Homo sapiens: one gene and its partners. The protein of the gene in region 1 interacts with the protein of each later gene in a pairwise test. Each region holds a gene or a part of one and is shown on either strand. Other genes may lie near its edges.

Evidence for each region.
Region 2: the proteins of RFC3 (region 1) and KHDRBS3 interact in binary tests that used the Homo sapiens proteins (3 or more experiments, as listed by UniProt).
Region 3: the proteins of RFC3 (region 1) and KHDRBS2 interact in binary tests that used the Homo sapiens proteins (3 or more experiments, as listed by UniProt).

What each region holds. Positions count from the first base shown.
Region 1 is NC_000013.11:33,815,926-33,819,673, reverse strand, and holds the start of RFC3 (replication factor C subunit 3), read right to left. Parts: upstream 1,526-3,748; 5' UTR 1,496-1,525; coding exon 1,409-1,495; intron 1-1,408. UniProt on the Homo sapiens protein: Subunit of the replication factor C (RFC) complex which acts during elongation of primed DNA templates by DNA polymerases delta and epsilon, and is necessary for ATP-dependent loading of proliferating cell nuclear antigen (PCNA) onto primed DNA.
Region 2 is NC_000008.11:135,455,525-135,459,272, reverse strand, and holds the start of KHDRBS3 (KH domain-containing, RNA-binding, signal transduction-associated protein 3), read right to left. Parts: upstream 1,818-3,748; 5' UTR 1,407-1,817; coding exon 1,319-1,406; exon of another isoform or gene 1,298-1,318; intron 1,241-1,297; exon of another isoform or gene 1,094-1,240; coding exon of another isoform or gene 1,090-1,093; intron 730-1,089; exon of another isoform or gene 370-729; coding exon of another isoform or gene 363-369; intron 1-362. UniProt on the Homo sapiens protein: RNA-binding protein that plays a role in the regulation of alternative splicing and influences mRNA splice site selection and exon inclusion. Binds preferentially to the 5'-[AU]UAAA-3' motif in vitro.
Region 3 is NC_000006.12:62,284,619-62,288,366, forward strand, and holds the start of KHDRBS2 (KH domain-containing, RNA-binding, signal transduction-associated protein 2), read right to left. Parts: upstream 1,608-3,748; 5' UTR 1,331-1,607; coding exon 1,240-1,330; intron 1-1,239. UniProt on the Homo sapiens protein: RNA-binding protein that plays a role in the regulation of alternative splicing and influences mRNA splice site selection and exon inclusion. Binds both poly(A) and poly(U) homopolymers. Phosphorylation by PTK6 inhibits its RNA-binding ability.

The DNA of each region.
Region 1 (3,748 bases):
GACAAAGCTATTGACGGAAAATGTAATTTGTCTATAAATGATGGATACTGCAGTAATCAATTTATTTTAAATTAGTATACATGCAGTATCAATAAAGAGACCAAAAAAAAACCTTCAATGTCACAACACTATCAACTAGTCTAATGATTTTTACGTGTACAATCTTTTCTTATTATTTCTTATTTTTAAGACGCACTTAATTAAATAGTATCTGTAAATCTAAGAAAGGTCGGAAGGGAAAACCAGGGTATTGGGCAAAAACGTTTCCATCAGCATCATATATTAATTTGAGTTCCTTAAAAGGAGTGGATAAATGTCTTCCACAGACACTTTATTCTCCTAAAGATCCTTCTTTACTCTCTACTCCCTGGAAGATTCAGTTCGTTCTCACAAAATATTGCCATTGGGCACTTTTATCAACTACAACAGACAAAGAGGCATCAGGATAGAGGGGAGAGGATCTTTCACAAAGCTCTAATCTCAGCCACGCACGGTGGCCCACGCCTGTAATCCCAGCACTTTGGGAGGCCGAGGCAGGCGGATCACCTGAGGTCAGGAGTTCGAGACCAGCCTGGCCAACGTGGTGAAACCCCGTCTCTACTGAAAAATACAAAAATTAGCTGTGCGTGGTGGCGGGCGCCTGTAATCCCAGCTACTCGGGAGGCTGAGGCAGGAGAATCGCTTGAACCCGTGAGGCGGAGGTTGCAGTGAGCCGAGACCGCGCCATTGCATTCCAGCCTGGGCGACAACAGCTAAACTCCGTCTCAAAAAAAAAAAAAAAAAAAAAAAAAACTAATCTCAGGAACGTCCTAATACAATTTATTTGAGAATTAGAAACGATCTTTGGAGTAAATACATATTTACAACACTTTACTTGTAAATGACAATGACATCGAGAAATCTTAAGCCAGCTAGAAAGTAAATCACATGGTGTCATCTCCGCTCAAAATGCTCCAACGGCTTCTCGTCTTATTCTGAGACTGACTGGGTCTGCACTCCAACTCCATCCCAACACATACACCCATCTCCGATTACCCTTCCCGCTGGTTCACCACTATCGGCTACGCCGGCCTCCTGAGGTTCTTAGAACATGCCGTGCACATCCCTGCCCGGGAATTTTGCACTTGCTGTCCCCTCTTACCTGTTCCACTCTTTGCTCGGATTTCTGTATTTATGACTTTTCAATTTCCTTCAAGTCTCGGCTCAGATGCCACTTCTCAGTGGAGCTTTTCTTGTTTAAAAATACAAGCCAGCCTCCCACACCTCTTCCCCCTTCCCTGTGTTATTTTTCTCCATAGCACTTATCACCTTCCAATGCGGGCGGGAGAAGCACTGCTCCTCAGGGGGGCGCGAAACCCCGAGCCGGGGGGCCTCCCCTCTCCCACGCTCCCGGCCCCCGCAGACTCACCAGGTTCCGCAGCTGGGCCGCCTGCTCCTTGTGATAGTCCAGCCGTCCCAAGGAGCAGGGCCGATACTTGTCCACCCAGAGGCTCATGGCAGCTCGAGTTCCCGGGGGCCTACGCTTGAAAATCCCGCGCGAGCGCGCGTCCTCCCCACAACGCAGAGACAAGTTTTCCCGCGAGCTCCAAATCTCGTGACGTCACTACCGGTCGCGGCCGCGTAAATGATTTTGGACGGAAAGGCTACGGGGGCCGTGTGCAGACAAAATCAGCTGCCGCGTCGATGCCCTCTAGTTCTGAAGTTCACTGCTTTATTTATTTTCTCTTTGTTCGCACCGTCTATTATATTCTAGAAATTATCAAGCGGAATTGAAAATGTGGTTCTGACCCTTTTGGCGTCACATCCAGATACCTCAGAGAAGACCGTTCCTTTCATTTATTCATTCTTTCATTCACTTAATTCATTCAACAAAAATTTACTAAATATCTGCTAGGTGTGGAACTCTGTCCTCGGCACTAGAATATATACATCTCAGGGTTTCACTCACTTGGCAGGTACCCAGTAAAGCTTCATTGGATGAATCGCTTGAAAATGTCTGATCTTCACTATCCTTTGTTACCTCTATTCCTCAATATTCTTATTGGATTAGAAACAAAAGAATCAAGAGCATGGAAAAACTACCCAAATGTGGTCTGTAGGGGAGAAGACACGAGGTTAATATGCATTCTAAGTCTAGAATATTTGAAAGCCCTCCAATTAAAATGTGTAGAAGCATCTGAACCCCTCAGAAAAATATTCTGCATATGAAGTTGATATGCAACTTTTGAAGTTCTCTTCAAATAGTGCCTCTCAAAATGCACTTTACTCATTGTACATAATATTAATTCCTTATTTAATTTATGCTTTTATTTTATGTATTATTAAGAACCCTAAGTCCTGCCATTTGATTGCAAGGTCTTACAGGCAGGAAATGATTTCCAAATATACTTAATAACCTTTCACCAAGGTGCCTCTTACTCATTTATTAATCAATAATTTATCATGTTCTTCTATGAATCGTCATATTACATGAATTACTCCTGCAGGTAAGGTATTATCCACACCACCAAGTATAAGATTTAATCCCTGTTCTCGAGAAACTTTCTATAATAAGCCTGGAAGGCTTCTGCCTCAGGGCCTTTGCAATTACTGTTTCCTCTTCCTGGACTATGTTTCTCCAGTCAGCAGAGTTGGGTCCCTCATTTCCTTCAGGATGTTGGCTCAAGTATTATCTCCTCACTGAGGCTTCCCTGACCACCCTATTTAATATTGCAAAAAAGCTTCATCTTCTTTATGCTTCTCTCCTTTGGAATTGAAATGGAGGAAGTGTTTGAAATGAGAAGGTAAAGGAAATCAGAAGCAGGGATACTGAATTGTGGTCTATGTGTATATCATAATCATAATGAATGATAATGGAAATAAGTACTGAGAGGAATAAAGAGAAGAACCAAGTGCTAGAATGATCAATAATTTGGCAAGAGTGACCACAGGCATGACAGACAACTTCAATAAGGAGCAGTGGTTGATGGTCTCTACCGTGAAGACATGTCTCTACCATTGAAGCACATGAAGACATGTGCTTCAATATTGTTGGGGGTTCTGAGGAAGGAGAAATAGTGTGGTGACCCAGGAAGTCCAGTTAAATTTGAATTTCAGAAGCTTTTTCATATGTCTATGGCAAAATTTATTACAAATGATTTTTTTTCTCATATAAGTATGTCCCTGGCAATATTTGAAATTGTAATAAATATTGCCAGGGACATACTTATATGAGAAAAAAAATCAGCCTTTATCTGAAATTCAAATGTAACCAGGGCCCTGTATTTATCTAGCAATTTTACTCCAGACTCTTGAATATATAGGATATGAGAAATTGCTACAGAGGAAGTAAAGTCCTCGGGGTTGGTAAACTACAGCTGCAATCACTTTAATGTTTAATGACTCTGGCCCTCAGGTATCTTAGCTCTTTTTTTTTTTCTTGAGATGGAGTCCCAGTCTGTCTCCCAGGCTGGAGTGCAGTGATGCGATCTCGGCTCACTGCAACCTCCACCTCCTGGGTTCAAGCGATCCTCCCACCTCAGCCTCCCATGTAGCTAGGGTTACAGTTGTGCACCACCACGCCCAGCTAATTTTTTGTATTTTTAGTAGAGACAGGGTTTTACCATGTTGACCAGGCTGGTCTCGAACTCCTGAGCTCAGGCAAGCCAGCTGCCTCGGCCTCCCAAAGTGCTGGGATTACAGTAGCGAGCCACCACGCCCGGCAATCATATAGTAATTGTAAGTTTAATTTTTTGAGTAACTGCCATAC
Region 2 (3,748 bases), on another chromosome or scaffold:
CCACCATCGGTCAACCACACACACACTCTACTCTGAAGAACTGGTTGAAACAGGCAAAAACTGGAGGTCACTGTTTTAAAATATAGGTATCTATATACAAATAGAATATGTCTGCCTCATCTTTCACTTCCAACAATAAAAAAGCCAGGGCGAGCACTAAGAGCAGCAGATCCGATTCATCTAGGGAACCACAGACTGTCAGTGCACAGTAATTCCTGCAAAAGGTAACAGATCTGACCAGATCATGTTGCTGCCATTTCCCAGAGAAAAGACAGACCAGTGGCACCCACACCCATCTTCATCTGAAACACATATTCCAGGAAAAGTAGGAGACTGCTCCCAGGAAGGAAGGCTTAATTTACCGTGCATGCCAGCAGATGATTCAGGAAGCCACAGGAGGAAAAAGCCAGGGGAACACTGTCCCGGGTAGGCGTGCCTCCAGAAATCTCTGTATCCCTGACCCGCAGTACTTCCTAGGATCTTTCACACCCTGAGCTGGCTGGAGTCGTGTGAAAATGGCAAGGACTCCCTTCACCACTATTCCGAACCTCAAGCCAGCCACCAATGAGGGTCACCCAACCCAACGCCCTCCGGAACGGTGCTCTTTTGCCGGCCTCTTCTCCCCTACTGACTTCTCCAAGGGCCAGCCTGCAAGGCTTGGCATGGGCTGCCCATCCCCTGGGAGGGCTGACTGCCCCGCCAGGGCTGTTGGAGCCTGGACACAGGAGAGACAAAGGGCTGGGAGGGGGAACTGGGCTCCTCCCCTGGGACCACGGAGCTCCTCTCCTCTCAGGTGCTGGGGTCTGACCCCAACCCTCTTCCAAGGTCCCCAAACTTCGCTAACAATGCAAGCACCTGTTCCCTTCACCTCTTCTGCATTTGAGTCCCTCAAGTCCTTCCATTTTCCTCCAGCTTTTTCTCCAGTACCTTAGACAAACCAAACGCCCTACTTCCCCGAGTCCAACACGCTCCCCTTCCATGACATAATTCAACCTCGTTCCCAACGAAGCCCCCAGATGGTCGCTGTCCCCCACCCAGAAGTTTCCCCTGGGTGTGCCCGAGTCCCCAAAGATTTCCTTCAAGTCTCACCCATGCGCCCCAGCCTTCTCCTTCCAAGTCCCCAAAATTCACATCAGGGTCTTCCCCTAGGTGTCCCACAGCCTCCCAGGTCCCCGTGCAAACGACCCCGGGGGCCACCCGGGCCTCCGTCTCCGCCGCGTCCGCTGACAGCAGAGGGCACGGAGGGGCCCCCTGGGCCCCCGCGTTTCCACCCGGCCCCCAACCGCCGCCGGCCGGCAGTTAACGGCCGGCGCCTCACCTTGGTTCACCAGGCGCAGGGCGTGCGTGAAGGAGGGGTCCAGGGAGTCCTTCTCCGCCATCAGCTCGGGCAGGTACTTCTCCTCCATGCTCGCCGGCCGCCGGGCCCGGGATGTGGACTCCAGGCGCACGGGGGGCGGCGCCCGGCAACCCCCGACCCCGCCCGCGCCCCCAGCGGCGGGGACCCGGGGGCCAGACGCGGCAGCAGCGGCCAAGCCGGGCGGTCGGCCGGAAGGCGGCGGCGGCGGCACGGGGGCGGGAACCGACCGCTCAGCCCCGATCCCCGGTGGCCGCCGAGTACCCAGCGCCGGCGGCCCCCGCGCTCCGGGCGCGGGCCGAGGAGGAGCGGGCGCGGGCGGCGCGGTTAGGCGGGCCCTCGGGCCGAGCGGGCTGCGGCGCCCCTGAGGCAGTCCACGGCGATCCCCGCCAGTCCCGCCAGCACCTGCCAGCACCCGAGCCACAGCTGCGACCTGCACGCCGCGCGCCGCCCCGCGCACTCTGAGCCACCGCGCCGAGCGCCCAGCGCCTGCCGCCGGCCCCGCCCCGCCCGGCTCCGCCCCGCCCCGCCCCGCGCCCGCCGCCCCGCCCTGCCGCGCCGCGCCTGCGCACTGGCGCCCACCGCCCCGCCGCCCGCCGCCTCCTGGGGCCGCTCTCCACTGCGAGTCCGCCGGGACTAACCGGGCGTTTGCGAGAGGGGGTGCGTCCAAGGGCCCCTCCCGCGTGTCCGGCGCCCACCTTTGGCCCTGAGGGCCGAGTGGGGAGCCCCACGACGCTATTACAGCCTTTCAGATGCACGGACTGGGAAACTGGGGCTCAGAGAAGTCAAGTGGCTCGCCCAAGGTCACCCAGCGAGTGATCCTGGGAAGAGGGGACAAGGGCCGAGCTGGAGCTGGGAAGGGCGCCCCAGTTCGCCCCAGTCGCGCTCTGAGGAATAGCAGCGGGACCGCCCTGCTCTCTAAAGCTTCCTGGACTTCTCTAAGTTATGTCGCGTTGCTGTCCCCTCGTACTTATAAGAGAGTAAGGCAGGGGCGCCGTCCTTTCTCCGCGCCTGAGCTCAGAGCGCCAACCTCCTGAGATCCGCCAGCTCAGAGGTCGGTTACATAAAAGCGCGTGCCCTTCTGGGCGTCTTTGTCATCCCGACTTGCTCCTGGGTTGTCATTCTCTTAGGTCATAAACCGGCTGTGCCTGGACACAGCTGAGTGAGCCGCGTCTGAGCTCATCCGCTCCTGGGGAGAGGCCCTGGGACGCCCCGCCTGTCGGTGGCAATGCTCTCTGTCCCCTTCCGCCCACCCCCAACCCCCAGCAAATGCTCTCCAAGGCCATTTCAGATTTCCCGAGGCATGTGGAATAAACGTCCCCCAGGAAGGCGAAGGACTCCAGTCCTTGCCCTGCCATTTTTCCTGCCTTCAAACAGCCAGCTCAAGTCCCGGCCTCAATGTCACCTTCCCTGGACAGCCTCTCAGGACCTCCCTGGCAAAGCAAGTCACAAGTCCCTTCTCTGTGTCCCCCCAGCTTGGTCAGAGGTCATTCACAGACAGCTGTAATTCTGTTTTCAGTAGACCATGAGCATCAGGGACAGAGTTTGAGTTTTGTTTTTGAGGGGGAAGGTCACCAGTGTGTAGTACAGGGGGCAGGGATGGAGGGTACTGGAAATGTCTCTTGGAGGAATAAGTCAGTGGCATACCACTCTCAGCCAATAGCCTGAGGACAATCGCCACAGTCCCCCAGGCAGCCCCCCCGCACTCCCAATGCAAATGGAGGCAGCTTTACAAACCCGAGGGGAGTGGGAGGTGGTAGAAATCTTGGAAGCTCTAAGTCCCAGACCCGAGTACTCAACTGCCCTCACTCTCAAGGCTCCACTCCTCCCCCGGCTAAGGTGTCATTTCAGAGTCCCCAGTAAGAGTCTTCTTCATGGCTCTCTTCAGTCTCAACTTGCAAGAAGCAGAAAAATGGCACAGTTAAAAGCAAAGCCTCTGGGGTTAAACAGCCTGGATTTGGAATCATGGATCTGCTGCTCACTAGCTGTGACCTTGGGCAAGTTTCTTCACCTCAGGGTCCTCATCCGTCAAGTGGAGATGACAACCAAACTTATTTCATAAGAAGTTCATGAGAATAAATATGTTAACTCATAATGAAATACCCAAAACAGCACTCTGCCTATCGGAAATGCTGAGCTGATCTTTGCTTTGGGTTTTTTCCGGCTGCAAGGCTGTCCTCTGGGCCTTCTGAGCCTCCCTCGCCTTCCCTTCAGCTGTAACTCCAGGGATGCTGGGCAGACACCCATCTGTGGACTCCTCACTGCTGGTCGTGGTGCTTCGCCCCGGCCTGGCCAACTGAGTGAAGGACCTGTGACTGTCGCACCTCTGTTTCTGACCTGGGCCCAGCGTCAGGCTTGTAGGCTGCTTGTGGCTGCTCTTCTCAATCCCAGGTC
Region 3 (3,748 bases), on another chromosome or scaffold:
AAAACTAGCTTTTTCCCTGAAAACAGTTTAGTTATTTCACATGTTCCATGTTTTGAATATAAATCTTTTCCTAATTGTTTAGTATTTAAACATAGAAAAATACCTTACACTTCATTGTTAATATAAATAACAATTCATAAATTAAAAAATATAGCTAATGCCTATTTAAATCATATATTGAGGAGCAGAATTTATTCTTCCTTGGTACAACTAAGTCTCAAAAAAATCTTTTAATACTGAGGAGCTTGGGTAGAGGAAGTTATCCGTTTTAGTTTTTTGCTGTATGTAAGTCCATAACAAACTTAGCTACAAAACTGCATTGTAACCAATTTGATGATGAAGCAATTCATTATTAATGAAGCATTCATCTAAAAAAAATCTGCAGATGTTTTAAAAAGGCATGGGTAAGTAACTACAGATACCATAGGTGTCTTTAGTATTTAGATGGCATTATTATAACATAAATGGAGTAATTCGGTTAATAAAGTTCATGTGTCTTTTTTCAAAAAAAAACCTTTCAAAGCAATGCAAAAAACAAGACATATGTGTTCCTCTAGGAATGAAATCCCCTTTAACATTACAGGTACACAAAAGAAAATGCACACTTGGTAAAACAGTTGATCAATTATAGAGTGTTCCCAGGGACCAATATCTCACAGAGTACCCAATCATCACACTTCAAATAAATGTATAAGCACTTTAGCCTTTACTTACCACATTAACATACATATAAGAACATGCATAGTTTAATGCATAGGTTAATTCTAACACTTTCCATAGGATAGACTTTGATTAAAGGGTATCAAAAATCACTTCCTAAATGCAGCAAAAAATAAAAATAAAAATACCGATCTGTAGCTACGAAGCTCTTAGAACACTACATTGATCACCATTTACTTCCAAACTGCTTTCCCTTCCCTCTGCGAAGTGAAAATGTCCCTGTAGACCGCGTTACATACACTTTATGGTTTCTCTATCAATGATCCTAACAGGTCACATCGCCACTGCCATTAGATCTCCGTAGCTTTGGTCTTCTCCAAATTAAGACGTGGAGAAGGAGCACTGCTGTCCGCCCCAAGAACGGGGTCTGTCCGCCCGAGCTCTAAGGCGAGCATCTTCAGGGGGACAGTTTCTGCGAAGGCGGGGAGAGGAGTCCCTCCCCAACTTCACTCCCCTAATCAAGCCGCGGGTGAGATAGGCAGCCGGCGGTTTGTGCCCATCTGTGGGGGCAAGTCCTACCTTCTGCCAAAAGGCGCGACGCATGCACAAAAGATGGATCCAGGCTATCTTTCTCTGCCATCAGCTCAGGCAAATATTTCTCCTCTTCCATAGCGCGGACTTCGGATTGTCCCCGGGCGAAGCGCGAGGTTCCGCTCGCTCGGACGCAGGCAGGGTCTTGGGGCAGCGCCTGGCTCCCGCGCTGCTCCTCCTCCGCGCGGCGAGGGATCTCTGTGCGTCCTCACTGGCCCATGCACCCAGCACCTGCGACTCCCGCCGTCGGGCTGCGTGGCCCCGCGCCCACACCTGCCCGTCCCTTCCGTCGTCCCTCGCTCGCGCAGAGCCCCGGCTCACACCAGCGGCCTTAACTGGAGAGGCGGGAACAGGACGCGGCCCACCTCCGCCAACCACTCATTGGTGGTGGTGCCAGGAGAGGCGGGGCGCTGGCAGAAGGCCGCGGGCTCTCATTGGGCGGTAGCGCAAGTCGGGTGGCCTGACTGGCAGGAGGCAGCTGCAGAGGGGAAGGGAGCTCGGAAGATGCAAACGCTTTCTTCTTGCGCCCAAGCCTTCCCTGGCTATTAGGCATGCCCAGTTTTGTGGAGTTCTCTGTGTCTTCAGCTAAGGCGCAGAGGAGAGAGAGCGCGGGAAAAGCGCAGGTTAAAGAGAGAGGTCTGAGTACAAGTGGACAGGGGAGATGGAGATGAGAAGTGAGCCACCCGAGAGGGTGGAAAAGCGCCAGGGAAAGTCTCAGGAAGGTAGATGGGACTTCACCTGCGTCCCTAAGGCACAGGTGTCTCCTTTCCCTCACACAGCTCAGGCGCACTCCAGTTGTGCAGGAATCAGCAGCGCACTGGGTCTGGAAATACAATGAAGACTGCATGTGATCGGCAGCTGGTATTTCCGATGACCTACATCTCAGGGACGCAGTAGGATGTTCATTGATAAACAAATAAAGCGGCTCGAAGAAATATTGTGCAGAGACATGATTGAGGTGTACAATCATTAGGATATTGAATTAGTTCTGGTAACCTATCCGTGCCTCCTTTCCCCAGACCCTATCTGTGGAAGGGAGGTTGGGAGGGGCTGAATTTAAAAACCAAAAACAATATGATTCATTAGTCACAGTTTGTGAAAGAATTGGGAAGACATGTAGAAGAAAGAAGAGACTAGAAAATAGGTAACCACGTTTGCTCTAATTTTCCCCTTTCTCCTAGTTTTAGATGTGCCAGTCTCTTTCACCAGGTACTGTTGCTGAGCTACTTTGTATTATCCCACCTCTATTTAAAGGAAAGTTAAACCCTCATGATATCACCAAGCGTGGAGGCAAAGCCCATCCTTCTTTTACCAATGCGGCTATAAAATGTAACTTGCATGCCTCAATCGCTAGGAAACAATCTTTCCCCAAGTCTTGGGTTCTCGTTTCATAAGTAGTCATTTCCTGATTCTTCTCTCCCCCATTATTTTTGGTGTGGAAGAATGAGGGCCAACTTTGCTACAAATAAAATGTGCTGAAATTTTTCCAACTTATCTTACTGTATTTAAATATTTTCCTTTTAATTTTTAGATAAATTCGGGAGATTAACTTTTATTTGTATAATGTTTAAATAACGTAACGTGCCTCACATTGATTATTTCAATACGTCCTCACAGAAGCACTCTGAAAAATGCCAGCCAAGTATTACTTTCTCTGTTTGTATAAATATGGAAACTGAGGCAAAACAGAGAAATCGTCTCATGTCTAGTTAATGCTGAAGTTGAGATTAAAATTCAATTCTATATTAGCACCATTTATATCCAGAATATACTGCTTCAACCTACCTTTCTGTGTGTTATATATTTAATTTATTTGTGCATGTGTGCATTCAACAAATGTTTATTGGATACTGAAAAGAGTCTAGGGACAGTACTTAAAATTGGAGAAACATTGGTGAATAAGATACATACACATTCATTCCTTGTCATCACAAAGATGTTTTCTAATGGGAGAAGATAAATAAAACCAAGTATACAAGAGGAATGGTAATTGTTGACTGCAATAAAGGTCAAGAATGAACCAAGGAGTTAAGAAAGAGAATACAAGGGAAGACATTAGTTTCTTTATTTTTGACTAGGGTAAACATACAATCTCGATAAGCAGCTGATATTTACGGTGAAAACTCATGGAAAAGAATGAACCAAGTGAGTACAATGTGCAAAGAAAGACATTCCAAGCAGGGGAACTTGCCCCTGAAAAAGCCCTGTGGTGGAAAGAACTGTGCTGTCTTTTGGAATTGACTGAGGTCAATGTGACTACTGTAATATGGGAAAGAATGGAATCAATAAGGGAGGGGGGATTGATGTGTACAAACACTGAAGATTTGATGAATGAAAATTATTTGGATTTTATTCTAAGTGTAATAGGGGACCATAAAGTATTGGTATCTTTCTGGATGTGCTTCTTAATCTCTTTCTGATTCTTATGTTACTTTCAAAGGAGCTATTATTTAGAATTGAGTATATATACAGAAAGTTCTTGCTATTTTATCTGTGT